2 separate regions of the Homo sapiens genome follow, and region 1 is linked to region 2. Evidence: fine-mapped expression QTL. A gene starts in region 2. The other region holds a variant in brackets. All regions are shown on one strand. Distances are from middle to middle.

Region 1 (15,679 bases), 57 kb before region 2:
CATTAATTATATATTAAGTAATATACAATTAAATTATAATATAGCTAGTAATGGCAAATTCAGGATTTTAAGCTGTATCTCTTTTTCTATTACATCATGCTGCCTCCTTATGAAATAATTTTTTCAACAAATGTGTGTAGGTAATACATAATAATTTAGGGGAAAATTTCTAAATAGGTTGAAATGAAATAGAAGTGGTCACCTGGTAACAGGTTTTTTTTGTTTGTTTTTTTCAAGACAGGGTCTCACTCTGTTGCCCAGGCAGTACAATGTTGCAAACATGGCTCACTGCAGCTTCCATCTCCTGGGCTCAAGTGATCCTCCTGCCTCAGCACCCAAGCAGCTGAGATCACAGGTATGTGCCACCATACCTGGCTAATGTTTTAATTTTGTAGAGGTGCGGTCTCACCATGTTGTCCAGGCTGGTCTCGAATTCCTGGGCTCAAGAAATTTTCCCGCCTTGGCCTCCCAAAGTGCTAGGAATACAAGCATAAGCCACTGTGCCCAGCCCCTCTGGTAACAGATTTGAATCAAATGCCCAGACATATTCAACTTTGTATGGTGACCACTGTCCTGGTTCATGCTGCACCATATTCACTAGGTTCACTCTCCTACTTCACCTTCACAGTGCAATGAAAATTCCTATTCACAAAGCTCCTCAGTGGCTGTAAGCAATATAATTATGTTATTAACGTAATGCTAGGTAAGGCATGAATGATTAATATCTAGCTCTCCCTAAAGTACTTACATTTTAAAATGGGAAACATTATTACTACTAGTATTCTCATTTAAAACATCTGCTAGTTTTTTGAGCTCTTATTATGTGCCAGAGTATTTACAGATACTACTTCATTTAATCCTCTGAACATCCCAGCAAGGTAGATCACAGTATCATTTCCCATATTTCACAACTAGTAAATAGAGGAGTCAGCTTTTCACTTCAAGTATGACTCACTCAAAGGTCTACATGCTCACCCCACTACATAATAGATGTCTAATCTATAGAACGTTTCTAAATATCTCCAAAGAACAGGGATGTGGAAGGACAGAGCTGATTCTAGATAACTTCCTATCCCCAATTCGTACTTCTCTTTCACCTCCAAGGAGCAGAGGGCAACAAAAGGCTAGATGGGGCTGCTTGCTCTTACTGCTGTAAAATAAAATTACCTCACTCTTGAAGACTAGAGCGCTGAAATGGCCTCAAGCCCAAGGAGACAGCCTTCTGTCACCATCCATTCTAGCCTTAATAATGACAAAAGTAGCAAACACTTACATAGTACTTACTATGTACCAGTATTTGTGTATATTAGCTCTTCTAACCATCACAACAATCCCATGTGGTGGGTACTATTAGCATCTCCATTTACAGGGATGGGGAAACTGAGCCATCAAGTTTTAAAATAACTTGCTCAAGTTTATACAGCTAGTAGAAGGCAGTCTGGCTCCAAAGTCTGTGGTCCTACTATGTTACCTGGGAATGTGCCAACCCATAATTACTCTATTGAATATATATCTTCCAGTACTCCCTATTTACATTTGTGACTACATATGTCCCACGATACCAACAAAACTGACAGGCTTAGGGTTCTCCTAGGTGTGTTACTACTTGTCTCCAAGCCTTCATTTTTATCATTTCCTCAAAAAGACATTTCAAACTGTCTATTACAATGGCTGGCAGATAACAGACATTCTGTAAATATGCCTGAATTTTAAAGTAGAGTACAGTTGTACAATTTTGTCACCAAAAAGTAGCTTAACAGTTGAGTTGGAAACATTAATGTTGCTGACATAGGCAGAGAGAGACTCACATCACGCAAACTGTGGCTGAATACAGTTTGACAACACTGAAATTAAAATTCACTTTATATTTTTCTTGCCCCCAAATCCATATGTCTAAAAAAATTAAGTGCTTGGTCTGGCTTATTATTATCAAAGGCCATTAAGACCACTGATAAAAAAGTTTTAAAGGTTATAATATTTATAAAAGTATCATGAAACTGGAGTGTTACTCTGAGGCTAAACTGGTCATTTTAGCTTTATCAATTAAAATCTTCAGATATCTGAGAATTTGCTACAATGTGGAAGACACGGAATGCTGCTCTTCCTAATGAAAAAAACTATGAATTATAACAGCTTTTACTTTTGTTTGGTTGTCATACATACCTGGTTTGCTTTTCTGTTTATGAAATGATCTACTTGGTATGAAACCAAAAACAAGCATTTACAACTCAAATAATGCTTATGCACGGTTGGCACAACAAATGTGGCTTGGCAGGAAGAGAAGTTAACTAACTTAAGGGACAGTATATAGGAAAAAGATAATATGCTAAAATCTACGATGATAACATTCATGGAAGAATAGAAATAATCTACTATGAAACATTTTAACTTTAGTATTATCTTGAGTGAAGTTTAGAAAGAATCAAGATGTATTTTGATAGACTATATTGTCCACCAGCTGAAGGGAGTTCTGATATTCTTCATAAAAGTTGAAGTTTTTATTTAACATAAACCATACTAAACAATTTCCAATGCTATGTTATATATCACTTCTTAGATCTTCATTAGTTATTCTGTGAAATGTAATGAGCTACTACAGAGGTAAAGGTCTTAAAGCTTCTATTATATTTGGTAAATAGCAACATGAATTTCAAATAGAAATATGAAACTTACATTTTCTAAAATATCCACCATATCATCAGTTTTGATATAACACCCACCATATAAACAATTTTAAAATTAAATTTGAAAAATTTACAAACCTAAATATAACAATGGGCAACAAATTAAAAACTTATATTTAAAAAGCTTGTGTTGCAAATATTAGCCATCCAGAGAATCTAAAGGTAGTATCTGTATAGTTATCAGTCCTAAAAATTAAACAGGTTACTGTTGGTCTTATATCTGAAATCTTTTTCTTCTTGTTAAAATGGTTTTCTGACACTAAAAATATCATCAATCCAATCAGATTTAAAATTCTTCAGAGGATAAATTTAACTCATATCACATGGAGTAAAAATCCACCAAAAATGCACCTTTTCTGACCTTTCCAATCAGTGGTCACCACATTCAAATAATGAGACTAGACTCACACAGGCATTAGAACGATTAAAGTCTTATTCTCGACATGTGTTGAGAATTACAAATATATATACATGTAATATAGTCAAAAGTGAAGGGTTTTCAAATGATTTTGGCTTCCTTTTCTATTTATTTTCCTTGTTACAAGAAAGTCTTCGATAATCCTATATTGGAATATGCAATCACTAGCCTCCAGTTACATTTAGCATGGAGGTGAAACAGTAATTTAGTAGCTACAACGAATGTTAAAATTAAAATTATATTTCTAAAAAAAATGATGTTGCTTCTATATACTGCCTGTGAAGCAATGCTCCACTTCGTACTGGGAAAATGTTTACCAATTTTTCAAGAAAAAGGAGAATTCCAGGTTTTTGGCTTGTTTGAATAGGGATAAGTTTCCCATTAACTGAGATAAATAACACAGATAAACAAGCAAAGAAGGAGTTCAGTGTGAGATTCCTGTTTGGACACTCAGGTGCCTGTGTCCAGAAACAGCTGAATATGCAGGCCTAAGGCTCTCAAGAAAGGCCAGACCTGACACAGGGGCTGGAAATTATCATTTAGAACGGGCATGTAAAAAAAGTTCTAAACCAAAGGGAGACGACCAAGTTTAAGGGGAAGAGAAGGAGACTGATTCTATGATGAACCCTAAGAAGGAAGGGTCAGAGGAGAGTAAGAAAAACAAATAAACAAAAAAGAACATGGAATCCTTAGGATAAGGAGTTTCCAGAAGGGAAGGTATGATCGACGGTGTAAAACAGAAAAAGGTTCAGCATGACAAATGCTGACAAGTGGACTGGATTTGGTTTTACAGAGGTCGCTAGTGGCTTTTGCCAGAGCAATTTCAGTAAAGAAGGAGGGACTGAAGCTAGTTGTGCCATTAGGAAGAACCTTAAGTGCCTATGCCTATAAGCTTTCAAAGGTCTACAAAAATGCCTGAGACCTGAACATTTAAATTAAACTTAAAATAATTAAATTTAAAATTAATAAATTAACATTACTAATTGATAAACCTGGCACTCAGAAACATTTCATTCCACTCGGAAACAATTTCTAGGTTAGGGATGTTTCTTTTTTACTTCACATGAATTCCTTAGCAAGCATAATGATTGCCAAGAAGTCATAATCAATCATAAGTGACTTACTCAATCCAAATCACTTCAAAAGCAAAAGCCACAAATCTTTTCAAAATAATTAACCCTATTTAATCAGTGATGTAGATCCATTTTATAGGTTCTAGTGATCCAGGGTAAGACCTCCAACACAGAGTACGCTGGGACAGTGAAGACCTTAAAATGGCCCTGGTGAATGGAAGCTTATGCGGACACTAAAAGCTTGGCTAAGTAAAAAAGAGAGATGTAAGAGAGGAGTTAAAGGCAAATGCAGGATGAAGGAAAATGTTACAGGCTGAGGAAAAAGTCACTAAAGAGTTGGAGACTAAAGATATAGAGAGATATAGGGGGAGAACAGGTCACTTCACGGCGTAAAGTCCTGAAGAAAACAAGTACGAGGGATCAACAGCACACATGTCTAAGGGATCTAAATAACAGGAGGAATGAAGAGGTACAGATTTAGAGAAAATCTGCAGGCCCAGCTTAGAAATTAAGATAATTTGTGCTTGAGTCCCACAATTATTATTATTATTATTATTTTAAAGGTAAGATCTTTTGCTGAATGTGCAGGGAATAGGGTTGGAAAGATGGCTTTAGAAGAGAGGCAAAGGGCCAGGTGCGGGGGCTCACGCCTATAATCCCAGCACTTTGGGAGGCTGTGGTGGGCAGATCACTTGAGGTCAGGAGTTCGAGACCAGCCTGGCCAACATGGTAAAACCCTGTCTCTACTAAACATACAAAGATTAGCTGGGTGTGGTGATGTGTGCCTGTAGTCCCAGATAGTCAGGAGGCTAAGGTGGGAGAATCGCTTGAACCCTGGAGGTGGAGGTTACAATGAGCCAAGATCACACAACTGCACTGCAGCCTGGGTGACAGAGCAAGACTGTCTCAAAAAAAAAAAAAAAAAAAAAAGAAGAAGAAGAGGGGGAAAAGCAATTAAGAATTATCATAGTATTTTCAAGAACGTCTTCTCATATATTTCTTGTAATCACCCTGTGAGCTTGTGAGCACAGATATCACTAGTTGCCATATTACACATTAATAAAAGAAACCTGGACTCTAAGTTATACACGATCATTGATTTCAAATATCTTCTTAACTTTCTGTTTAACTTACGTTAAAGATCTCCTATTATTGAACTATAAATCTCAATTTTTCCAAGTGCTTACAAATATAGCTACAACACCTTTGATCTGGTCTCAGGACCATGACCTAAGCCACCTCCCTCCCCAGGGGCACTAAATATCTATCCCCCGCTCCCTGTCCTTGCTCAGGACTCAGCATTTAACAGTGGAGAGAAAAGTAAGACTGAAAGCCAAAAACTATGATGATTCTGAGCATGGTTTGATACTCCCAAGATTTTCAGAAATGTAGTTGACATCCAGTCTTAACAAACATTCCTGAGAACAAGGCATTTTCCCACAGGGTGTTTAGGGGTACTTAAATACATAAAACAGGGAGTGGTCAGTCACTAGGATTAAGATCAAAATGACAATTCTGAGAAGAAAGTCTCAGTAGTCATTAGATTTTTCTCTTTAATCAGAAACAAAGCACTGAAATGGATTTAAGATGTCCCAATTAAAACTGTTAAGAATACCAAATATGAGATCACCAAAAGATTAATGTCTCATCTCAGTTTATGCCTTCTTGCTTCAAATGCCAGAAAGGTGTTCGAATTCCAAGAACTAGATCCTATATGTGGATATCTTTTTGAATCCATGAGCGACAAAAAGAGAAGATTCCAAGTTCTCTCTTCATACTGCTTAACCTATCTGGTGGATCTGACATTACTGGCCATTCACACCTTGTTGAAAGCCCCTCCTCCCACAGCTTCTGTGACTATTGCATGCTCTAAGGTTTCCTCCTGTTCCTGGTGGGCTGCTCCTTCCTGCTTTCCAACATGAACTCCCTCCTGAAGGAGGGAATTTTTGTTCTTTCTCTACACTTATCTCCCTTTGGCTTATTCATTCTTATGGACTGAATTATCAGTGAGTAAATGGTGTCCAAATCTACATGCACAGCCTTAACCTCCAGCCAGTGATCTAGCTCCACAGTTCCAGTTTCTTCCTTTCTGTTGTGTTGCCATTCGTTAGTTCCCAGGCTGAAAACTTTATAATCACTACTTATTATTTTATATGGAATACTAAAAAACAAACAAAAGCCTGGTTAAAGTACACTTTTGAGAGCTGGGAGCCTCCATGTGATTATTCTTCCCAGCTGTCTGCCCGCTTGTATTGAATGAATCAAGAAAACCAAGTTAAGGCATGAAATACATCTCAAAGCATTGTTGTAATTTATTCTATTAGAAGTACATTTTATACAAACAAAGCTATATAGACTGGGCCATATCTAATACGGACTCAGAAGTGAGGAGAGAGGAGAGTCTAGGCAATGAGGCCATGTAAATCCAAAACTGTTACTGTATTCTTACAAAAACCAATACAGAACAACAAAGAGAACAAATAAAACTACACAAACCTCAGGTCTTCCACACATCCAAACTTCAAATTAACTGTAAGAAGAAAAATCAAAACAGAATCCCTATGAGCTCTCTTCCTTGTTCCAGCTGCAAGCCTGTGTGAATGGCAAGGACAGTGTGGGGAACACTGAATGGTACAGAGAGGGCAGGAGCTAGGACTAGGTCTAACGCTGACCTAAAACCATCATGAGAAAGAGAAAGTGCATCCTATGAGTGAAAATACTGGAAAAAGGCATAATAAAGATTAGATTACAGATTTTAAAGTACACTGGATACAGGGAGGTGATCTTAGAAAGTTGATAGTTTAGGGGTGAAAGAAAATTAAAAGGAAGGAAAGGTGCCAACCTCAAACCATCAACCCTGTCCACAGATATAAAGAGACAAAAAAGTCTTTATTTATTTTTAAAAACACACACATACACAAATAAATGGTTACAAGAATTCCAACAATTCATCTGACAAAAGCTTCCCTCAAAAAAAAAAATAGTGAAGTAGAAAACCGTAACATATTCTAAACTGAATCAAATTATCTTCAAGCAAGCATTTAGGGACATGGAAGAAAAAAAACCAACAAAACCCTTGATCAGGAACTCAAAAACAAAGAAAAGAAGTGGACAAAAACAGAAGAACTGAAACAGACCTGACTGAACTGAAGAAACACAAGAAAAAAGGCAAAATCATTTCACAAATAAACACAGAATTACATTGGGGCCCAAGAAGAGCAGATTCACACAAAAACATAATAAGGGCATTGAGGACAACAGGAAAACAACCAAAAGAATGAAAATGAGATAAAGAAATATAGAAGGAAAAAGTATCAGACAGAAAGTACCTGAGAGAGAAGACAGGTAAAGGAGAGTCCTTTTATACATAATGGGAGTTCCACAGAAAATAAAACAATTAAGTAGAACTATTATTTAAAATTGTAATTCAAAAAACTTTCTAGGAATAAAAGAAGACCCAAATCTATATACTTAAAGAGCTCACTGAGCCTGCAGCAAGAAAAACTGAAATGCAACAAGGGTTCTTTTTCCCCAGGGTCTCGAGGAGGAGGGAAAGGATTGATGGTTGGGGTCGGGGTGGTGCCAAACAACTTACAAGTAAAAGAGAGTTAGACTGGCATCAGAATTCTCAAAAACGACATAGAAAGCAAGATAAAAACATAGTAGCATTTTCAAAAACCTCAAAGAAAGAAATGTAAATCAAGGAGTTTATATTCAGCTAAACTATCCTCCAAGTAGGAAAGCTACAGAAAAATAGTTTTAAACATATGAGAGTTCATGAGAATTCTATGCCCATCAGTCCCTCTTGAGAAATCTATGGCATTTCCTGAAGATAAACTGCATCAGATAATGAGGGAAACTTAGGAATAAAAAACTGATAATGAGCACTTAATATATTTAATTATACACTTAAGACTAAAACAAAGGTAGAAACTAAGTAAAAATATATCATATGATATGTGCTATATGTTACATGTTGCATGTTCTAACAAAGCATAAATGAAACAAAATTTGATGGAAAAGGGAAAAAAAAGCGAAAGTAGAACAAGTTCACTGGTTATTATATAAGAAATAGGTGGGATTTCACAAAAATATAATGAAAAACTCACAACCAGGCAATAAACGGTTAATTTTTTTCAGAAAACTTATGAAGGCATTTAAAAAGTTGTAACACCAAAGGCAACCACTAAAACATATAAAAACTTACCTAAATGTCAAAAAAAATTTGTCAAAGAAAAAAACACAACAAAAAAGCACATCACACACAGAAACATAGCAAATAAAATACAAATAATAATCATAACATAAAATATGACACATTCGATGCTAAACATTTTTATCAAGAAATATGAAAGAGTTAAACTTACATATTCTAATAAAAAGACTATTTGTTCACTAAGCGAGATCCTAATATATACTCTATACAAAAACATACCTAGAACAAAATGGTTCAACAAAACTGTTTAAAAATAAAGGTATGGGGGTTCAAAATACACAAATCAATAAACATAACCCATCACATAAACAGAACCAATGACAAAAACCCCATGATTTTTGATGCACAAAAGGCTTTCGACAAAATTCAACACCCTTCATGCTAAAAACTCTCAATAAACTAGGTATTGAAGGAGAGTATCTCAAAATAATAAGAGCTACTTATGACAAACCCACAGCCACTATCATACTGAATGGGCAAGAGCTGGAACCATTCCCTTTGAAAACCGGCACAAGACAAGGATGCCCTCTCTCACCTCTCCTATTCAACATAGTATTGGAAGTTCTGGCCAGGGCAATCAGGCAAAAGAAAGGAATAAAGGGATTTCAAATAGGAAGAGAGGAAGTCAAATCGTCTGTGTTTGCAGATGACATGATTGTATACTTAGAAAGCCCCATCGTCTCAGCCCAGAATCTCCTTAAGCTGATAAGCAACTTCAGCAAAGTCTCAGGATACAAAATCAATGTGCAAAAATCACAAGCATTCCTATGCACCAATAATAGACAAACACAGAGCCAAATCATGAGTGAACTCCCATTCACAAATGCTACAAAGGGAATAAAATACCTAGGAATCCAACTTACAAGGGATGTGAAGGACCTCTTCAAGGAGAACTACAAACCACTGCTCAAGGAAATCAGAGAGGACACAAACAAATGGAAAAACAATCCATGCTCATGGATAGGAAGAATCAATATCGTGAAAATGACCATACCACCCAAAGTAATTTATAGATTCAATGCTATCCCCATCAAGCTACCATTGACTTTCTTAACAGAATTAGAAAAAAACTACTTTAAATTTCATATGGAACCGAAAAAGAGCCCATAAAGCCAAGACAATCCTACAAAGCTGGAGGCATCACACTACCTGACTTCAAAGTATACTACAAGGCTACAGCAATCAAAACAGCATGGTACTGGTACCAAAACAGATATATAGACCAATGGAAGAGAAAGGAGGCCTCAGAAATAATGCCACACATCTACAACCATCTGCTCTTTGACAAACCTGACAAAAACAAGCAATGGGGGAAGGTTTCCCTATTTAATAAATGGTGTTGGAAAAACTGGTTAGCCATATGCAGAAAACTGAAACTGGACACCTTCCTTACACCTTATACAAAAATTAACTCAAGATGGATTAAAGACTTAAATGTAAACCCAAAACCATAAAAACCCTAGAAGAAAACCTAGGCAATACCATTCAGGACATAGGCATGGGCAAAGACTTCATGACTAAAGCACCAAAAGCAATGGCAACAAAAGCCAAAATTAACAAATGGGATCTAATTAAACTAAAGAGCTTCTGTACAGCAAAACAAACTATCATCAGAGTGAACAGGCAGCCTACAGAATGGGAGAAAATTTTTGCAATCTATCCATCTCACAAGGGGCTAATATCCAGAATCAACAAAAAAAAAACAACCCCATCAAAAAGTGGGTGAAGGATATGAACAGTCACTTCTCAAAAGAAGATATTAATGTGGCCAACAAACATATGAAAAAAAGCTCATCATCACCAGTCATTAGAGAAATGCAAATCAAAACCACAATGAGATACCACCTCACAACAGTTAGAATGGTGATCATTAAAAAGTCAAGAAATAACAGATGCTAGAGAGGATATGGAGAAATACGAAGGCTTTTACACTGTTGGTGGGAGTGTAAATTAGTTCAACCATTGTGGAAGACAGTGTGGTGATTCCTCAAGGATCTAGAATCAGAAACACCAT[T/C]TGACCCAGCAATCCCATTACTGGGTATATACCCAAAGGATTATAAATCATTCTACAATAAAGACACATGCACACATATGTTTATTGCAGCACTGTTCACAATAGCAAAGACTTGGAACCAACCCAAATGCCCATCAATGATAGGCTGGATAAAGAAAATGTGGCACATATACACCATGGAACACTATACAGCCATAAAAAATGATGAGTTCATGTCCTTTGCAGGGGCAGGGATGAAGCTGGAAACATCATTCTCAGCAAACTAACACAGGAACAGAAAACCGAACACCGCGTGTTCTCACTCATAAGTGGGAGTTGAACAACGAGATCACATGGACACAGGGAGGTGAACACCACACATTGGGGCCTTTTGGGGGGTGGGGGACTAGAGGAGGGATAGCATTAGGAGAAATACCTAATGTAGATGACTGGCTGATGGGTGCACCAAACCACCATAGCACGTATATACCTATGTTAACAAACCTGCACGTTCTGCACATGCATCCCAGAACTTAAAGTATAATAAAAAAAATTTAATCGGCCGGGCGCAGTGGCTCACGCCTGTAATCCCAGCACTTTGGGAGGCTGAGGCGGGTGGATCACGAGGTCAGGAGATCAAGACCATCCTGGCTAACACGGTGAAACCCCATCTCTACTAAAAATACAAAAAATTAGCCTAGCATAGTGACGGGTGCCTGTAGTCCCAGCTACTCGGGAGGCTGAGGCAGGAGAATGGTGTGAACCCAGGAGGCGGAGCTTGCAGTGAGCCGAGATTGTGCCACTGCACTCCAGCCTGGGCGACAGAGCCAGACTCTGTCTCAAAAAAAAAAAAATTTAATGAAAGAATTGAAAATATGATAAAACAAAAAAAAAGGTATGGGGAAAAGCATATCTGGAAAGTAAACACAGTATGAAAGCGAGGGCAATGATTCTGATATGAGACAAGGCATAACTGAAACAAAAAGCATTAACTGTGACAAAGAAGGATATTCTTTAATGCTAAAAGTCTCAATTCACCATAATATCTACATACCAGAAACACAGCATCTGTTTCTATAAAATCAAAACTACAAAAGATGCAGGGAGATATAGAAGCCTGCTAATGATAGGAGATTTTAACATACCACTCTCAGTAACATACCATTCTCAGACTAAGTGGACCAATAATAAGAAGGGATACAGAAGGCCTAAACAACATAATCAATTTGTAAGCTTATGATTATATACTGAACTTTACAGCCTGAAAATGGAGACTGTACATTCTTCTGAACTGCAAATGAAACATTCACAAAAACTGATCATTTATTAGGTTCCACTTCCCCCAAATTTCAATATGTTCCATAGAACAGAATGACTAAAATAGTATTCTCTGATTTTAATGCAATAAAAGTAGAAATTATTAACAAATTTTTTTAAGTTAAAAGGCATTTTCATATGGAAACTAAATAATTTCCTATTATACACCTCTTGGAAGAAAAGGCAAGTATAAACAGAACTTACAAATGTTTTAAAATGATAATGAAAACATTATATATCAGAATCTATGGGCTATAGTTTGAATAATAACCAGAAAAAAATTTATAGCCTTAAATACTTTAACAAAATGAAAGAATAAAAATAAATTCCTATCTCAAGAAGCTGAAAAAAAGAACAACAAAAAGAAAGTACCAAAAAGGAAATAATAAAAATAAAAGCAGTGATTAATAAAAAAAAAAAGTTCTTTTTTTTTCTTTTTTGAGACAGAGTTTTGCTCTTGTTGCCCAGGCTGGAGTGCAATGGCACGATCTCGGCTCACTGCAACTTCTGCCACCTGGGTTCAAGCAATTCTCCTGCCTCAGCCTCCCCAGTAGCAGGGATTACAGGCATGTGCCACCACGCCCAGCTAATTTTGTATTTTTAGTAGAGACGGGGTTTCACCATGTTGGTCAGGCTGGTCTTGAACTCCTGACCTCAGGTGATCCACCCGCCTCAGCCTCCCAAAGTGCTGGGATTACACGCATGAGCTACTGCACCCAGCTGAAAAAAGTAGTTCTAATTGATAAATTAAAATTCTGCCTGCTGAAGAAAAATAACAAAATAAACATACCACTAGATATTCAAAGAACTTATTAAAGATACAAAATCAGAAATAACAAGAGTAAAACAACCAATGAAAGAGAAGAAATCCTACAACATTCCTTTATAGACTTTTTTTTTTTTTTTTTTTTGAGGCAAAGTCTCACTCTGTCACCCAGGCTGGAGTGCAGTGGTATGATTTTAGCTCACTGCAATCTCTGCCTTCTGGGTTCAAGCAATTCCACCTCAGCCTCCCAAGTAGCTGGGATTACAGGCACCTGCCATCATGCGTGGCTAATTTTTCTATTTTTAGTAGAGACAGGGTTTCACCATGTTGGCCAGGCTGGTCTTGAACCCTTAACCTCAGGTGATCTGCCCACCTTGGCCTCCCAAAGTGCTGGGAATACAGGCATGAGCCACTGTGTCCACCCACTTTACAGACACCTCTACGAATAAATTTGAAAACCTAAAAGCAAGGGACAATTTCCAAACTTGATCCCGTTAGAGATACAAAGTTTAAACAGACTCACTTCCATGAAAGAAATGAAGTTATCAAGAAAGTACTCCACAAAAAGCACCATGCTCCACTAGTTTTGCAGAGCAATCCTACAAAGGATTCAAAGACCAAATAGCCTCAATGCTGTACAAGTTGTTCCAGAGCTTTGGAAACAAAGGAAAATTTCTTAATTCTTTTTATGAAGCAAGTAAAACACAGACACATTAAACAAAACGAGAAAAGAAAGAAAACTGCAACTAATATCACCTTTGAATATTGACGCAAAAGCTTTAAATAAAATATTAGCAAACACAATTCAACACCATGGTGAGAAAATGATACACAAAGAACGTGAGAGACTTACTCCAGGAATGCAAGGTTGGTTCAATCCATTAATATAATACATCATAGCCATATCTCTAAGAAGAAAAATCATGATTATCTCCATAAATGCTGGGAAAAAAAGCCTTCAACAAAACTTAAGACCCATTCCTAATTAAAAAAACTCAAGAAAATAGGAATTCATGCATACTTTCTTAGTATGACAAACAAGTAAACATATATAATTTGCATTAAAGTCAGAATCTTATTTTTAATAGAGAAACACTAAAGGCGTTTGTACTCATATCAGGAATCAGACATTCTCTATAAACTATTTAGCACTGTATTAGTGGTATTTGTGGAGGGAATTTTAAGAAAAATCAATTAGAGGCATCAGAATTGGAAATGAAGGTGTAGAACCACCTTTATTTGCAGGTGATAAGATCATACATCTGGAAAACCTTAATGAATCAATGATCTTTAGAAGGCAGAGAAACAGGTACTCTCAAACATTGCTACTGAGTATCAAAATTGGCATATTCCTTATGGATGGGAATTTGGTAATATCTAACAAAACTACATATGTTTACCTTTTAACTCAGCAATCCCACTTCTAGGAATACCAGACATTAATTCTCTAGTAACACAAAGCTATCATTCACTGTGGCACTGTTTATTTACAAAACATTGAAAACAAGCTAAATGTCCATAGATAGGAGGGTAGCCAAATAAACTATAGCACATCCACACAATGGTGTATTATGCAGAATGAGAATGATCTCTTTGATACAGAATGATTTCCAGGATATATTTTAGTGAAAATCCTGGAAACCTTTCTGAATATATCTTTATGTACATCTTGACTTTTGAAACCATGTCAATGTTTTGCCTAGACAAAATCAACAAGGATGGGAGGAAAACCCTAAAATTGAATACAAACAGAAACAAAGGAATCAAACCATGTTTCAAGTGAATAACATAACCACACTCTAACAGAGAAGAGGAGAATTAACCTAAGTAACTTCTGAATATAGTATTCAAACTAAAGACAAAAAAAACTCTAAGCAAGTGCTGAGCTCTAATTAGTAAGATTGTTTTTTTCAAAGGTATGGCTTTGCAATTCTGAACTACTTTCTAAGCATTACAGGGTTTAACACATAAGAAAATATATTGTGAATAAAATGGAAGTCAAGAGTTACAAATTTGGAAAGGGAAAATAAATCCTCTGTGGTATGGAACTGTAACTGGAAGTATAAATAGAGACCCACACCCACACACACTCTTATCTAGATATCCATGCACATATATACACATACATGTTCATATATCTACATTCACAAAAAATCATACACTCATGTTCATTGTTTTTTCATCTAAGCAATCTTAGCCTTACGACTCATATAATTAGACCTGAAGAAATGCAATTTCCAAATTTCTATATCTAAATTTAGAATATATTGGCTATGCCATCTATAGTGTAGGAAAGTGTTACCATAGGAACATCTATTAGAAAAGATGGCTTTTAAACAGAATAGCCAGGCTAATATTTGAAGAGAAAAAATTTACTCATATATGTGACTGGATCACGAAAACAGGAAAAATATAATATTAATCCTAGTAAATATTTAAATGTACCCATCTCAGATTATTTTCATGTTAGTAAGAGTAATCATATTATCTCTTATAAAAGTTGCAAAGATGCAAATGTTACCTGGTATTTCACAATGAAATGTATTAAAAACCACTGTACCTTACAGTAAAATCATACGAGCAAGAGGCCAGCACAGAAGCATGAAATGGTGAAAACTACAAAAAAAAAAAGAAAAAAAAAACCCTTTTTGAAGTCAGCTGTGATTATAACACTGCTTTCTATGATCATTCCATAAACATTATAATAAATTTAAGTTGAGTCAGAGCTGTCACTTAAAATTATGCTTTTTCAAAGCATATATGCTATAATTTGAGGCAAAAATCTTCTGGCCTTATAAGTATCCATCTTCAGGAAAAATATTTTTACATTCTCCAAAGAAAATTATCCCTCAAGCTTTTTAGAACTTATTTAGAATAAAATATTCCCAAAATGTTGCTATTCTGGAAAAATTAAATACAATTTCATATTGGCTATCCAAAAATGATTCTTACAGGCCAGATGCAGCAGCTCACACCTGTAATCCCAGCACCTTGGGAGGCTCAGGAGGGCAGATCACCTCAGGTCAGGAGCTCGAGACCAGCCTGGCCAACATGGTGAAACCCCGCCTGTACTAAAAATACAAAAGTTAGATGGGCATGGTGGCACATATGCCTATAATCTCAGCTTCTGGGGAAGCTGAAGCAGGTGAATTGCTTTAACCCAGAAGGTGGAGGTTGCAGTGAGCCGAGATCATGCCACTGCACTCCAGCCC
Region 2 (15,679 bases):
TATTATATACTCTCTTCCACAGAAGAAAATGACCCATTAGTTGCTCTTCTATTTCACAACACAGCTTCCCTGAACATACTGGTGGAAAAAAAAAAAACAGAAATTGGCTATGTTCATTATCAACTTTTTTTTTTAATAACTTTCTTTTAAGACAGGGTCTCACTCTGTTGTCCAGGCTGGAGTGCAATGGCACGAACTCAGCTCACTGCAACCTCCACCTCCCATGCTCAAATGATTCTTGTGCCTCAGCCACCAAATAGCTGGGACTACAGGTGTGCACCACCACACCCAGCTAATTTTTTTATTTTTAGTAGAGGCGGGGTTTTCGCCATGTTGGCCAGGCTGGTCCCAAACTCCTGGCCTTCAGTGATCTGCCCACCTCGACCTTCCAAAGTGTTAGGATTACAGGCATGACTCACTGCACTCAGCCTCATTTATTAATTTATTCAACAAATATTTACTAGCTCCTTAAAACTCTCATTTGAGCTTAAATCCTTTTAAGTATTTTTGAGTATCTGGCATATGCAATGGACTGAATATATCCCCACAAAACCCACATGTTGAAATCTTAACCCCCCAGTGTAATGGTTTTAGGACGTAGGGCCTCTGGGGGGTAATTAGGTCATGAATGTAGAGCCCTCATGAATGGGATTAGTGCTCTTATAAAAGGGATTTCCCAAACCTCTCTCATTCTCTTTCCACCACCTGCAGATACAATGAAAAGACAGCAGTAGTCTTTGACCTAAAAGAGGGCCCTCATCAGAACCCAAACATGTGGGCACCCTGACCTTGGACTTCCAACCTCCAGAATAGTAAGAAATAAATTTCTGTTCTTTATAAGGCACCCAGTCTATAATACTTTGTTACAGCAGCCTGAACAGACTGAGGCAGAAACTGGTGCCAAGAATTAGGGGTGCTGCTGTAACAAATACCTAAAAAGGTTATCTTCATTTATTTTTCACATAACCAAGCAAAATATGTGAAACAGTAAACTCTGACTGTTGAAGCCATTTAATTGTTTTCTATTACACTAACATTCAAGGCATCCTGATACAAACGCTTACCAAAAAGTGCATTTGAAAAGAAAACGAGGAAGTCTAACTAGAATAGCAGTACGCAAAACAAATTTAAAAAATTAAAAAACAGAAGTGTGTCTTCGGTTCAAGAAATCAGCTGCAAAATCACAGAATGATGTAAAACTGGTTTAATAGCAGTTCAAATAACAAAAGAGGTAAGTGTGTTACTAGCAGACTCAAAGTAACCTAACACTAAGACATGGCTGAGAACAATGTATAGCCACTTTAGGTAATATTATTAGAGCTAGGGGCTCAAGACTATGGTGGTAAAATCTTATAAAGCTTAGCCCTTCATCACATTTCTGGAATAAATTAGGTATATGTTGAAAGGGGAGTTGAAAAACAGGATTATCAAAGGAGGCTATCAGAAGGATGAAAGACGTACAGATCATGTCATCTGAGGACAGGACAATGAAATGACAAGTGCACAGTCTGGAAGAGAGCACGATGGCTATTTTCAAGAGGTTTCCTGGACAAGAGGGGCTGGACCTGGTCTTGCCACTTCAGAGAAAGACACTAAAAGCAGCAGTTGGTTGCTATAGAAGGTAGAGTTGGGATTACAAGAAGCAGTTTCTTAATAATCAGAACAACCTAAAAGTCAAATAAGTTATCTCAAGAGAAAGTGAAATTTACTTTCACTGACAGGAAGTAAAGACTGAGTGAGCATCCATCCAGGATATCCTAGAACAGTATTTTCCAGAGAGTAGTTACACCAGAGATTATTTTAACTGGTACATACATTTATTTTATTCATTACTTACTTATCTCAATGTACACTAAAAACAAATAAATGTACATACTAAAGTAGCCATCAACCCCATTGTTTCATGAATATTACTGTTTTAGGATAAATGAAGCAACGACTTTACTTGATTGAAAGAAAAACATTAAGTCAATATATTGAATTTACCTTAACTAGCTATATTATTTTATGATGTCAGTTATCATCCTTGAATTTATATAGATAATAAAAGGCACCAAAGATTTAAGAAAAAGGAAAAAAAAAACTTCTGAAAAGAAAAATATTTTTTAAAAAAGAAAGAAGGAAAAGAAATACATTATAATACAAGTGGTATAAAAAGATGTCAAACATCACAAAAACTAGCCTGGGCAACATAGCGAAACTCCATCTCTACAAAAAAAAACAACAACAAAAAAACACACACACACAAAAATTGGCTGGGCACGGTGGCTCACGCCTATAATCCCAGCACTTTGGGAGGCCAAGGCAGGTGGATCATGTGAGCCCAGGAGTTCAAGACCAGCCTAGCCAACATGGTGAAACCCGTCTCTACTAAAAATACAAAAATTAGCAGGGCACGGTGGCGCACGTCTGTAATCCCAGCTACTCGGGTGGCTAAGACATGAGAATGGCTTGAGCCCATTCCAGAAGGTGGAGGTTGCAGTAAGCCAAGATTGCACCACTGCACTCTAGCCTGGGCAACAGAGTGAGACCCTGACACACACACACACACACACACACACACACACACACACACACACAAATTCACACAGGTTCCACAAAAGTATCTGAATTTTGGACATACTGTTCTGTAGAGATTCGTGCATTGATTATCCTGAAACTAAAATTTCTCCTTTACCAAAATTGTCTTAATATTCAGTAATTCCCTGAAAACATAGTAATTTACAACTACATTTATTCAAATAGCTATCATAATTAAAATAGAAACTAAAATTTTTCATTATTTCAGTAACAATCTTAGAAATCTTGATTGTCAATAGCTACAGCTATAAAACATCTGGACCCCTCACATAACTAATCTTTACCACAAAAGACTGATATTCTTGCATCTAATAAGCATTTATTGAGGGCCTTCTCGGGCCAGGCACTGTGGTGGACAAAAATTTGAAAGTAGATTAGCAAGTTTTCATCTGAAGGATGTACTGCTCCCTTAAGGAAAATCTTAAAACATTTAAGGTAAAAACACAAAAAGAGGATGTCTTTATGTTCACTGAAAATATACATGTATGTTAGTACAACTGAAGCCCAAACTATTTTCTATGCTATACATACACACACACAAAATCTAGACACATGAACCAGATTTAGATATAAAATCCCTTCAGTAAGTTCTGCCTCATACTCAGTATTTTATGCTCTTGCTCCAATATACTCTGAAACACCTCGGGAATCTCACTGAAGCCCCAAAGGCAATCTTGTGATGTCTATGTGAAAAGTCCACCTACCTCTACCTTAAGGCACCATGTGGCAAGCACATTCTTAGAGCACAAAGAAAGTGATGGGCCTCTCAGGAGGAAATGGTGCCAGAGTACACTGCTGGAGGTGTTCTTTCTGCCTAATGAGAAGACTGACCTTTTCTTTTCTTTCCCCACTCCTTAGGCCAAGAGGTACTTTATGTTTGAATAATCAAATAATAAGTGACATCTAGTATGTATAAGAAATGCTAACGTTTAAACTTGTCCCCTGAAGATATTTCTCCATGTGTCCATCCCCAAATGGATTTCAACCAAAGTCGAAGAAAGAAAAATAATCAGCCCAGAAAGATTTCCCTCCTACCTCCTGAGCGTGTTCTTTATAGACTTGCAGTGGCCCTGCAGCTTTGGCAGTGTCCCAGAGCTGCAGCGAGCCATCGCCACTACAGGTGATGAGGACATGTTCGTTGTTCTCACTCCAAGTCACATCAAACAAACCATCATTCCAGTCAAAGCTACACTAGGAAAAAACAAACAACAAAAAAATACAACACTTACATAGGCAGCTACACAACAAAAAAAATAACAATTATGGTTTTTTTTCTTTCAATTTATCACACATTTTAACACGTATATCTCATGTAATCTGCACAACTACGGGAGTTAAGTAGAGTAGGTACTTGACAAATATGGCAACAGATTCAGAAAGGTTAAAAAAAACAGTCCAGTGGAATGTAGTAGTCCAAAAATGTAATAGTACACAGTATACTGCTCCACATTTTTTTATGTTTAAATTTTATAATTTATGAGTGGACACTAAGAGACAGGCTTCAGATTTGTTTTGTTTTTTATTTGAGAGAAAGAGTCTTGTTCTGTCATCCAGGCTGGAGTGTAGTGGCCCAATCACAGCTCACTACAGCCTTGAACTGGACTCAAGCAATCCTCCCACCTCAGCTTCCCAAGTAGCTGGGACTACGGCCTAAAAATTAAAAAAATTTTTAGGCTGGGCCCAGTGGCTCACGCATATAATACCCACTTTGGGAGGCCAAGGTGGGCAGATCACCTGAGGTCAGGAGTTTGAGACCAGCCTGGCCAAAATGATGAAACCCCATCTCTACTAAAAAATACAAAAATTAGCCGGGTGTGGTGGCGGGCACCTATAATCCCAGCTACTTGGGAGGCTGAGGCAGGAGAATCACTTGAACCCAGGAGGGGAAGACTGCACTGAGCCAAGATGGCGCCACTGTACTCCAGCCTGGGTGACAGAGCCAGACTCTGTGCATAAAAAAAAAAAATTTCTTTTAGAGACGGGGTCCTCCTATGTTGCCCACGAGGCTGGTCTTGAACTCCCGGCCTCAAGTGATCCTTCTGCCTCAGACTTGGGAATAGCTGGGACTACAGGTGCGCACCACCACAATCAGCTAAAAATAAGCTTCATCCTATGCAAACGCCAAGGTTCCTTTTATACTGTATATTAAAACATTAATCAAAGAGTCAAAACCTAATTCTATTAAGGCTTTAATAGCAACAATATATACCTTTAATAATTTCAGCCCCCTTACCTTCTAAAAAGCCTTAGCCCAGCTTCATCTGGATCCAATATTAGTAGGGTTCCACAGCCTAAAGAGAAAAAAAATCAAGGTCATCCCTTTGAACCTGCCAGGGTAACATCGAAAGTCAAGGAGTTATCAAGTAATTGATACCTGATTTTAATACCACAAATTTTTCCCCAAAGTATTTGGGACCTTGAATACCAAATGGTCAGGTGATCAATTTCTCCCTAAAGTTTTTGGGACATGAATACCAAATGTGTTCTCTATTTCTGTTTTTCCATATTGTACTTCAGTTACTAAATATTCAACTTCCCATTGCACCTATGATTGGAATTCAGACATGGACCTAACAGGGGGGTGAAATACTTAAGGGCCTACTCTGTAGCCAGACAAGGCACCAGAGACACAAACCTTCCAAGTTGGTGTTATCATTCCTACTGACAGATGAGAAACCTCTGGCTTACAGACCCCAGGGACTGCACTCCTCACCAGTAAATCTAAAACACATCTCACACAGGATTTTAAAACAAAATATGAATGCGGAGATACTTGGTGGGATTTACTACATAACTGGTGGTAATAAAGTGCTGAAAACAGTATTAATATGTTACCTGTCAAAGATTATTTTACCAAAGGGCCATTGTATTTTAAAAGTTATGTTTACTTTTTATAGAGACCAAGGGGGAAAATCTCTTCTATTTAAACATGACTGAATTTTTTTTTTTAAATACCAATTCCCTTTAAAGAGTTTTTGCATAAGATTTTAAGTAGCATTACAGGCCAGTCACAGTGGCTCACGCCTGTAATCCCAGCACTTTGGGAGGCCAAGGCAGGAAGATCGCTTGCACCCAGTTCCGGACCAGCCTGGGCAACATAGTGATACCCTGTCTCTACAAAAATAAAAAATCAAAAATTAGCCAGGTGTGATGGTACATGCCTGTGGTCCCAGCTACTGGTGAGGTTGAGACAGGAGGATCATATGAGCCCAGGAGGTGGAGGCTACGGTGAGCTGTGATTGCACCACTCTACTCAACCTAGGCAACAGGGTGAGACCCTGTCTCTAAAGAGAAAAAGAAAAAAGAAAAAAAGAAAACTACTACCATTATAGACTCATGAGTCTTCAGTCTAACTGGTGGGCCATGTAAATCTGAATGTGCAAGCACTAAGAGCTAATAATGAAAATAAATCAAGTATTTCTCTGAGTTTTAGAAGTAACATTTTTTTCTGCTGTAGGACAAAACAAAAAAATACAATAGACCACTGACATTATGAAATGAGTTTTTGCATCTCGCTTCAGTGCGTATAATAGCTAGGACATGAATTAAGGCAAAAGCGAGAATGAACCTACGCCTTTTCATCTAGTCCACGGACTAGATGGACTCTTTTTTTTGAGACGGAGTTTTGCTCTTCTTGCCCAGGCTGGAGTGCAATGGCACGATCTCGGCTCACCGCAACCTCTGCCTCCTGGGTTCAAACTATTCTCTTACCTCAGCCTCCCGAGTAGCTGGGATTACAGGCATGCGCCACCACGCCCGGCTAATTTTGTATTTTCAGTAGAGATGGGGTTTCTCCATGTTGGTCAGGCTGGTCTGGAACTCCCGAACTCAAGTGATCCGCCCACCTCGGCCTCCCAAAGTGCTGGGATTACAGACGTGAGCCACCGCACGGCGCTTGGCCTTTTTTCTTTTTAAGACGGGGTCTCAGTCTGTCACCCAGGCTGGAGTGGAGTGATGTGATCTCAGCTCACTGGGCTGGGGCAGAGTGATGTGATCTCAGCTCATTGTAGCCTCAACATCCCGGGCTCAAGCGATCCTCCCGCCTCAGCCTCCTGAGCAGCTTTAACCACAGGCTGAGCCAATGCGCGCGACGGGAGACAATTAACTGGAGTCTGTAACACCTACTTGCGAATGTGTGCATTCCTCGTTAGACAACTACAGGTAAGAACTGAACTTGATATATTTCATGGTGTCACCCGTGGGACTCCAGGCGTCCATTCAGGAGCATCGTCCTTAGGAAGGCCAGCCCGCAGGTCGCAGCTCAGTGCTCGAATGCAGACTGGGAATTGTGGGCCAACTCGCGAGCCCTGGGTCGGTTCTGGCTCAGACCGTCTTCCCCGTACTGCTGTGCCGAGCGGACCGATCCAAGGGACCGCGCAGGCTCCCCCGGCTCTCCCTACGGGGACGTGTGCCTGGGCGTGTGACACGTGGCGGAGGCAGCGCGGTCTCAAGGAACAAGGACACGGGCTACTAGGCTACACGTATATGCACTTGCACACAACTGGAAGATCGACTCCTGCTTCAGACCAACTCCTCGCACTCGGCAAAGAAAGGAGAAGCGCCGACCAGCGCCTCTTCTGCCCCCTGGCGTGGACCCGCGGAACCGTCTACGCTCAGAGGGGCTTTCCCTCGAGCGCGAGGAACTGGAGCCCGGCTGGCCCCCGCCTCCGCCTCCGCCCCCCGGCCCCAGCTGCGCGGCGCCGCCTCACCCGCGATGCCGTAGTGCTGCGCGGTGGCGCAGGCCAGGCGGCCCGGCAGGTACGGGGAGAACTCGGCGGCGTAGCCGTGGCGTCCCGGCGTCCGCAGCATCCGCGCCGCTCCACCGCACACCGCACTCATCCCGCCCGCCGCCCCCGGCCCTCGCTGCCCCGGCCGCGGAAGCCGTTCCGAGTCGGAGGCACACTGGCGCGGTTAGAGAGACCAGGCAGACCGGACGGAAGTGTGGGCCCCGTGCCCTGTGTTTGAGATTCTGATTGGTCCGCACAGGAAAGGGCGTTGACTCCGACGGAGACCATTTTTGTTTTGGGTGAATCCAAACTGAATTGCGCCTGCTGCAAAGATACAGATCTATCAGGGGAGTGATCCAGGGTTAGGTATTATTAATAATTACGACAGCTTTTGTCGTTGCATCTCAGCCTCCTCTGCGGTGCTATCTGGTTTTTATTTCATTGAGCGTTTGGAAGACTGGCATCAGGAACTTTTCCTGATGATTATAAAGTGAGAAAAGTTACAGCCGACTCTGAAACCACGCAGCGCGTCCAAAATTGCGTGCTGCGTTGCCCAAGGAAACTGGAAGCAATGAGAACTTAAGTCCGTGGAGTCACTGCGGTCTTTAGGAATAAGAGCGTGGGCTGGTGGGCTACTTTCACACTGTAACTGGAAAAGATGAAACACCAACTCCAAACCAACTCCCCATGCTTGGCAAGTGAGAAAAAGGAGCTGGCCAGTTCTAATGAAGCTAAGCAAAAAAGCAGCACATCATCATATACAACTTTTTTAAAAAGTATTACTATACATGTATATATTGTATGGTAATAAGTGCTCAGATGCTGGTGCTCATTCATTCATTTATTGCCAGGCATATACTATGTGGAGAATGACCAAATATAATTTATCTGCCAAACCAAGATACTTTTGAGAGTAAAGAGGGTGTAATTATTAAGCCAGGTCAACAGGCACAAACCAAGTCGTATGATCATCTTAACCATATACCAAGAACAGTACTAGGCATTTGGGATTCAAAATAATGGGATATGGTCCATGGCCTCAAGAGATTAGAGAAGAAGACTAAAAGAGAAGTCATGTAATTAGTTAAGTGTAATCAAAATACTGTAGAGGCTATGATAAATTTATATGGGGTATTTTTAAAAGGTGATTGTCCGTGCCAGAGGTATGGAAATTGCAGGAAAGGCTGCAGAAGAGAGATAAGTCTTTATGGTGATTGCACACAGATGAGTAGGTTTTCTTTAGGTAGACAAGAAGATGGAGATCTTTGTAGGAGCAGGAATAACATGAGCAACCCAGGAGATTTAAACCAGCATGATCCATAGGGGGTCGTGGCTGCCAGGACTCAGCCTGGCCAGATGGAAGGGATACGGTGAAAAAAATATTGGGTGGGGAGACTGTAGAGTGTTTTACTGGGGCTAGATCATGAAGAGTCTTATATACCATACTAAGAGAATTGGATTTCTACTGTAAACAGTGAAAAACAGTGGAAGTTTTCTAATGTGAGAAATTAAATGACCAAGGTTTTATTTTAAAAAGTCCTGCAACACTAATATGGAGGATAGAGTTTGGAGATGGGGAGGCCAGTTAAAAGACTTTTGCAGGCCGGGCGCGGTGGTTCACACCTGTAATCCCAGCACACTAGGAGGCCGAGGCAGGCGGATCACTTGAGGATCCAGACCAGTGTGGCCTCTATTATTTTGGATTTTTATCATATGTAGTCACTGGAATGTATGCTGCATGAGGGCAGAAATTTTTGCTTGTTATGTTCGCTGTTGTATCCCAAGGACCTGGTATTTAAGCATTCAGGAAATGTTGAGTGAATGCAGCCTAATACAGTGCCTAAATGATCAGTGTGTTTTTCGTAATACTACAAAAAGTAACCTGGAAACATTCTGGAGTTTATTGAAATGCTAAATAGGCGTTAATAAAATATCAAAGTAAGCAAACATGAAGCAGCTGGGACCTTGGCAAAGAGTTGTATATAAAGAGTTATCCAATCTAAGCTAAAAATAGTGTGGTATCTCTGGGAGGGAGAAAGGCTGGTTCCAGCTGGGGTAAACTATTTACAGTGACCTTGGACATACACACACACACACAAACTGAGCTATTACCTGCTCCTTACCTAACCATACATGATTATAGCATTGTAAAATATTTCATCCCACCTGTGAAGCTTTCTAAAATATAAACAACTAAACATATAAAAAATAAACCATACTCTTACACTAGATTTTGAGCATCTCGAAGTAATGTCCAAGTCTAATTTGTTTGTGTCTCCAGTACCTTGAAGAATGTCCAATATATAGTAAACACTGCACAAATGTTTGACAACTTGAGGTGAACTGGAAAATTAAGGAAAAGGAACATGAAATGCTCCTTAGATTCTCCTTGTCCCCTGCCCTTGCTCCACACCCCTTCCTCCACCCATGCTTTACTAAGTGGAGTCCAAGTTTGCTAGGGGTATGGATAGAATTGGAGTTAAGAATTGCCTGGAAGGGACGGGCATGGTGGCTTATGCCTGTAATCCCAACAATTTGGGAGGCCAAGGCAGGCAGAACACTTGAGGTCAAGAGTTTGAGACCAGCCTGGCCAACATGGTGAAACCCTGTCTCTACTAAAAATACAAAAATTAGCCAGGCATGGTGGTGGGCACCTGTAATCCCAGCTACTCTGGAGAAGGCTGAGGCAGGAGAATCGCTTGAACCCTGGAGGCAGAGGTTGCAGTGAACTGAGATCACACCACTGCACTTCAGCCTGAGCGACAGAGCGAGACTCCGTCTCAAAAAAAAAAAAAAAAAAAAGACTCTTTTTGTTGTCTTCCACCTGTTCTTGTCATTGTTTAGGAGTACTTGGTATTTCCCAACTGAGACAGAAACCATTTTTTATGAGCATTCATTACACCTCAGAGTTGTGTAACTTCTAAACTTGGCCAACTCTGTGGAAGACCATTTAACTCTGTGGAAGGCCTAATAATGTAGGCAGACATGGCTAGATGTCAGGTTTCTATAAGGATCTACAATTATATTTAGATTGTTTTGTTTTATAACTGCTATGGTGACCTCACAAAGACTCTAACTGCAAATATTTACCAACCCACATCATTTTTAAAACTAGTCTATCTTTCCCATGGAGAGAGACCAGAAGTAAAATAATTGAAATACGTGGTCTTTCTACCCAGGTGAATCATTATCCTAGGTAAATCGGCAGGCTGCATATGGTAGTTATGGGAAATAATTCCAAGAAAGGATGGATAATTTCATTGTTCCTTTTAGCTCTGCACAGCATTGTGCTGGGTACCTAGTTAGCCTTTAATCAATGTTTGCCAGAGGGTTAATGTAATCATCATCCAAGAACTTTAAGCACTATCTTCAAATATATGATGGATACTTGGACTGATGCACTTTAGAGACCCTTAAAGCTCTGAGAGTCTCTAATTATGGGCTAATTGTCTACCTTGCTCGTTTTATATCATTCATCACTTATTATTTTAGTTATACTTTCTTGTTAAAAATTTTAGAATCTGTGGTAATGTAAAATGGTGCAGCTGATATGGGAAATAGGATAGCAATTGCTTAAAAAATTAAACATAGAATTACCATATAATCTCGCAATTCCACTTTTGGGTATATATCTAAAAGAATTAAATGCAGCAATTCAAACAGATATTCGTACACTCCTGTTTGCAGCAGTATTACTCATAATAGCCAAAAGGTGAAAGCAACCCAAGTGTCCATTGGCAGATGCTATGGTCTGAAAGTTTCTGTCCCCCCCAAATTCATATGTTGAAATTTAATCACCAATGTGATGGTTTTAAGAGGTGGGGTGTTTGAGATGTAATTAGGTCATAAATGAGATGATTACCTTTATAAAAGAGGCTGGAGAGAGAGCCCTCTTACCCCTTCCACCACGTGAGGACACGGCAAGAAGTGAACATCTATGAACCAGAAAGTGGGACCTCACCAGACATAAACCTGCTGCTGATGGCTTGATGATGGACTTTCCAGCCTCTAAAACAGTGATAAATATATTTCTGTTGTTTATAAGGTACCAAGTTTATGATAGTTTGTTATAGAAGCCTGAACCAACTAAGACAATAAATGAACACATAAAGAGAATGTAATATATGCATATGGTGGAATATTATTCTTCCCTAAAGAGGAGGGATATTCTTACATGGATGAACTTTGAAGACATTATGCTAAGTGAAATAAACCAGGCATAAAAGGACAAATACCGTATGATTCCACTTATATGAGGTACATAGTGTAGTCAAATTGATACAGACAGAAAATAGAATGGTGGTTGCCAGGGGCAAGGGGAAGTGGGGAATGGAGAGTTATTGTGTGACAGGCATGGAGTTTCAGTTTAGGAAGATGAAGTTCTGGAAATAGATGACAGTGATTGTATAACAATGTGCATATACTCAACATCACTGAAATGTCTGCTTAAAAATGGTTAAAATGGTAAATTGTATGGTATGTATATTTTGCTACAATAAAATTAGAATCTTAACTAGAGTGTTGGTTTAGGACATACATTTACTGCACTTCTATGTGGAAGGAGAGAAAAAAAATATAAGAGCAATTGGTATAATCTGATCATAGTAGAAAATGCATTTAGTCTTTTCGTCTTTTTCTGGAAAGACAGCAATTAAGAGCATGGTGTTTAGAGTCAGAAACCTGGGATTGAAACCAGGCCTTATGCTTTTTAGCTTGTGTGGTGGAAAGTGTGTGACATCTATTTATCTACTTTCAGCTCTTGGGTAGGATTAATATTTTAGATGATGCTGCACATGTACTGACAGCTCCTTGATTCCCCACATGGCTGGATAGACAGGTGCCTCTTCTGCAGGCTCAACTCAACAAAACAACATGAGGTGTGATACATTGGCTGTTTCAAATCCATATGCTGATAACATCTCCCTCAAAAGGTTGTTGTGAGGATTAAATGGGGCAGGTATCATGTGTAACTGTAAGCCCTCAATTGGCAGGGGCTATCATTTTAGTTGTGTGCATTCTAACTTGGCTCAAGTATTAAAATTACTTCTTCATGGCAGAAAATTAAACCCTCTAGTTCCCATTTCACTCTTTTTCTTTCTTTCTTTCTTTCTTTTTTTTTTGTTTTTTTTAGATGGAGTCTCACTCTGTCACCCAGGCTGGAGTGCAGTGGCATGATCTTAGCTCACTGCAACCTCCACCTCCCAGGTTCAAGCAATTCTCCTGCCTCAGCCTCCTACGTAGCCTCCTACGTAGCTGAGATCACAGGCATATGCCACCATGCCCAGCTAATTTTTGTATTTTTAGTAGAGACGGAGTTTCACCATGTTGGCCAGGCTGGCCTCAAACTCCTGACCTCAAATGATCTGCCTGCCTTCATCTCCCGAAGTGCTGGGATTACAGATGTGAGCCACTGTGCCTGGCCCCATTTCACTCTTGATTCTCTCTCTTAACCTCTTTTGCTATCACCAAGAAGTAAGGATTTCTCAATGCTGTTAGTACTTTGCTAATTTTTTGGCTCATATACTTTATAATCATGATGAAGCACATCTACGTTTTAAGTTGCCCTCTAAAATGTTTTCTCGTAACTTTAAATAGCTGCAAATGACATAATTTCAAGTTTATTGAAAATTAATGTCACTTTAAAAGTAAAAATATTTGATCAACCTTAAATGTATCATATGGATTCTAAAAACAATAGGCTTTTGGTACTTATCATTATTATATTAGTTATCTATTACTGTGTAACAAATTGTCCTTAAGCTTCACAGCTGAAAACAACCATTTATTATCTCACAGTTTCTCTGGGGCAGATAAAAGTCTCTCACAAGACTGCAATCAGGGGGTCAGCCAGGGCTGCTGGGTGATCTGAAGACTTGACTCGGGGAGGATCTACTCCCAAGCTTCCTCAAGTAACTGTTGGCAGGATTCAGTTTCTTATGGACCATAGGGCAGAGGGCCTAAGTTTATGGCTGGCTAATGGCTAGTGACCTCCCTCAGTTCTGTGTCACATGAAGCTCTCCATACGGTAGTTCATAATATGGCAACTGGCTTTCCTCAGAGCACACAGAAGAGAGAGAGAGAGCAAAAGAGGAGAGCAGCATAGAAATCATAGTGCTTTGATAGCCTTATCTCAGAAGCCTCATCCCATCGCATTTGCTGTATTCTCTTTGTTATAAGCAAGTCTTTAGGTCAAGCCCACTCTCATGGGGATGAGATTACACAAGGGCATAAATATTATACCTGGGGGCAAGGATCATTGGGGGCCATCTTATAAAGCCTGCTATCCACTACTATCAATTTTTTAAAAAACATTCGAACAAGGTCATTTTTAACTGTTAGAAAAATTTGTCTAAATGACGAGTTAATGGGTGCAGCACACCAGCATGGCACATGTATACATATGTAACTAACCTGCACATTGTGCACATGTACCCTAAAACTTCAAGTATAATAATAATTTTAAAAAAAGAAAAAAAAAGAAAGCTGAAACTGGATCCCTTCCTTACACATTATACAAAAATTAATTCAAGTTGGATTAAAGACTTAAATGTTAGACCTAAAACCATAAAAACCCTAGAAGAAAACCTAGGCAATACCATTCAGGACATAGGCATGGGCAAGGACTTCATGTCTAAAACACCAAAAGCAATGGCAACAAAAGCCAAAATTGACAAATGGGATCTAATTAAACTAAAGAGCTTCTGCACAGCAAAAGAAACTACCATCAGAGTGAACAGGCAACCTACAAAATGGGAGAAAATTTTTGCAACCTACTCATCTGACAAAGGGCTAATATCCAGAATCTACAATGAACTCCAACAAATTTACAAGAAAAAAACAAACAACCCCATCAAAAAGTGGGCAAAGGACATGAACAGACACTTCTCAAAAGAAGACATTTATGCAGCCAAAAATACACATGAAAAAATGCTCACCATCACTGGCTATCAGAGAAATGAAAATCAAAACCACAAAACCACAATGAGATACCACCTCACACCAGTTAGAATGGCAATCATTAAAAAGTCAGGAAACAACAGGTGCTGGAGAGGATGTGGAGAGATAGGAACACTTTTACACTGTTGGTGGGACTGTAAACTAGTTCAACCATTGTGAAAGTCAGTGTGGCGATTCCTCAAGGATCTAGAACTAGAAATACCATTTGATCCAGCCATCCCATTACTGGGTATATACCCAAAGGACTATAAATCATGCTGCTATAAAGACACATGCACACGTATGTTTATTGTGGCACTATTCACAATGGCAAAGACTTGGAACCAACCCAAATGTCCAACAATGATAGACTGGATTAAGAAAATGTGGCACATATACACCATGGAATACTATGCAGCCATAAAAAATGATGAGTTCATGTCCTTTGTAGGGACATGGATGAAATTGGAAATCATCATTCTCAGCAAACTATCGCAAGAACAAAAAACCAAACACCGCATATTCTCACTCATAGGTGGGAATTGAACAATGAGAACAGATGGACACAGGAAGGGGAACATCACACTCTGGGGACTGTTGTGGGGTTGGGGGAGTGGGGAGGGATAGCTTTAGGAGATATACCTAATGCTAAATGACGAGTTAATGGGTGCAGCACACCAGCATGGCACATGTATACATATGTAACTAACCTGCACATTGTGCACATGTACCCTAAAACTTAAAATATAATAATAATAAGATAAAATCAAAAAAAGAAAAATTTGTCATTTCTTTTTCTTCTTGAACTTGTAATTCCATTCTACTATTCTGTTGTAGAATTTTCTCTAATGTAATGTTCATTTATGCTTGAAATCATTTTATTGATCTCTTTATCATATTTATCACATTAGAAAATTACATACATAAACTGATGTTTTAATTTAATTTAATTAATTTTGAAATAGGGTCTTACTTTGTAACCCAGGCTGGAGTGCAGTGGTGCAATCATAGCTCACTGCAGCCTCAACCTCCCAGGCTCAAGTGATCCTCCCACCTCAGCCTCCTGAGTAGCTGGAACTACAGGCACCAGCCATCATGTCTGGCAAATTTTTTTATTTTTCATACAGAGGAGGGGTCTCACTATGTTCCCCAGGCTGGTCTTTAATTCCTGGGCTCAGATGATCCTCCTGCCTTGGCCTCCCAAAGTGTTAGGATTACAGGCATGAGCCACTGTGCCTAGCCTGAAATTTTAATTTTTAAAAAATTTCCTGGGGCCGGGTGTGGTGGCTCACACCTGTAATCCCAGCACTTTGGGAGGCTGAGGTGGGCAGATCACCTCTGGGCAGGAATTTGAGATCAGCCTGGCCAATATGGTGAAACCCCACCTCTACTAAAAATATAAAAATTAGCTGGGCGTGGTGGCGGGCGCCTGTAGT

Evidence for each region. PIP is the estimated chance that this variant, and not a neighbour inherited with it, causes the effect. A credible set is the group of variants that fine-mapping cannot tell apart.
Region 1: its variant is the best candidate, but not a certain one, in a credible set for the expression of PEX7 in whole blood (INTERVAL, PIP 0.76).

What each region holds. Positions count from the first base shown.
Region 1 is chr6:136,871,602-136,887,280 of GRCh38, reverse strand. It overlaps PEX7 (peroxisomal biogenesis factor 7), which reads right to left. Exons shown (of 10, transcript NM_000288.4): 8 at 15,028-15,083. Among named protein-coding and RNA genes, the nearest start is that of SLC35D3, 43 kb to the left of the region's middle. The variant T/C (reference allele first, on the strand shown) is at 10,406.
Region 2 is chr6:136,814,406-136,830,084 of GRCh38, reverse strand. It overlaps PEX7 (peroxisomal biogenesis factor 7), which reads right to left and starts at 7,493. Exons shown (of 10, transcript NM_000288.4): 1 at 7,290-7,493; 2 at 4,814-4,871; 3 at 3,616-3,766. The coding sequence starts at 7,419. RefSeq lists silencers at 1,547-1,747, 7,213-7,592 and enhancers at 6,883-7,042, 6,424-7,156, 7,157-7,889, 7,773-7,922.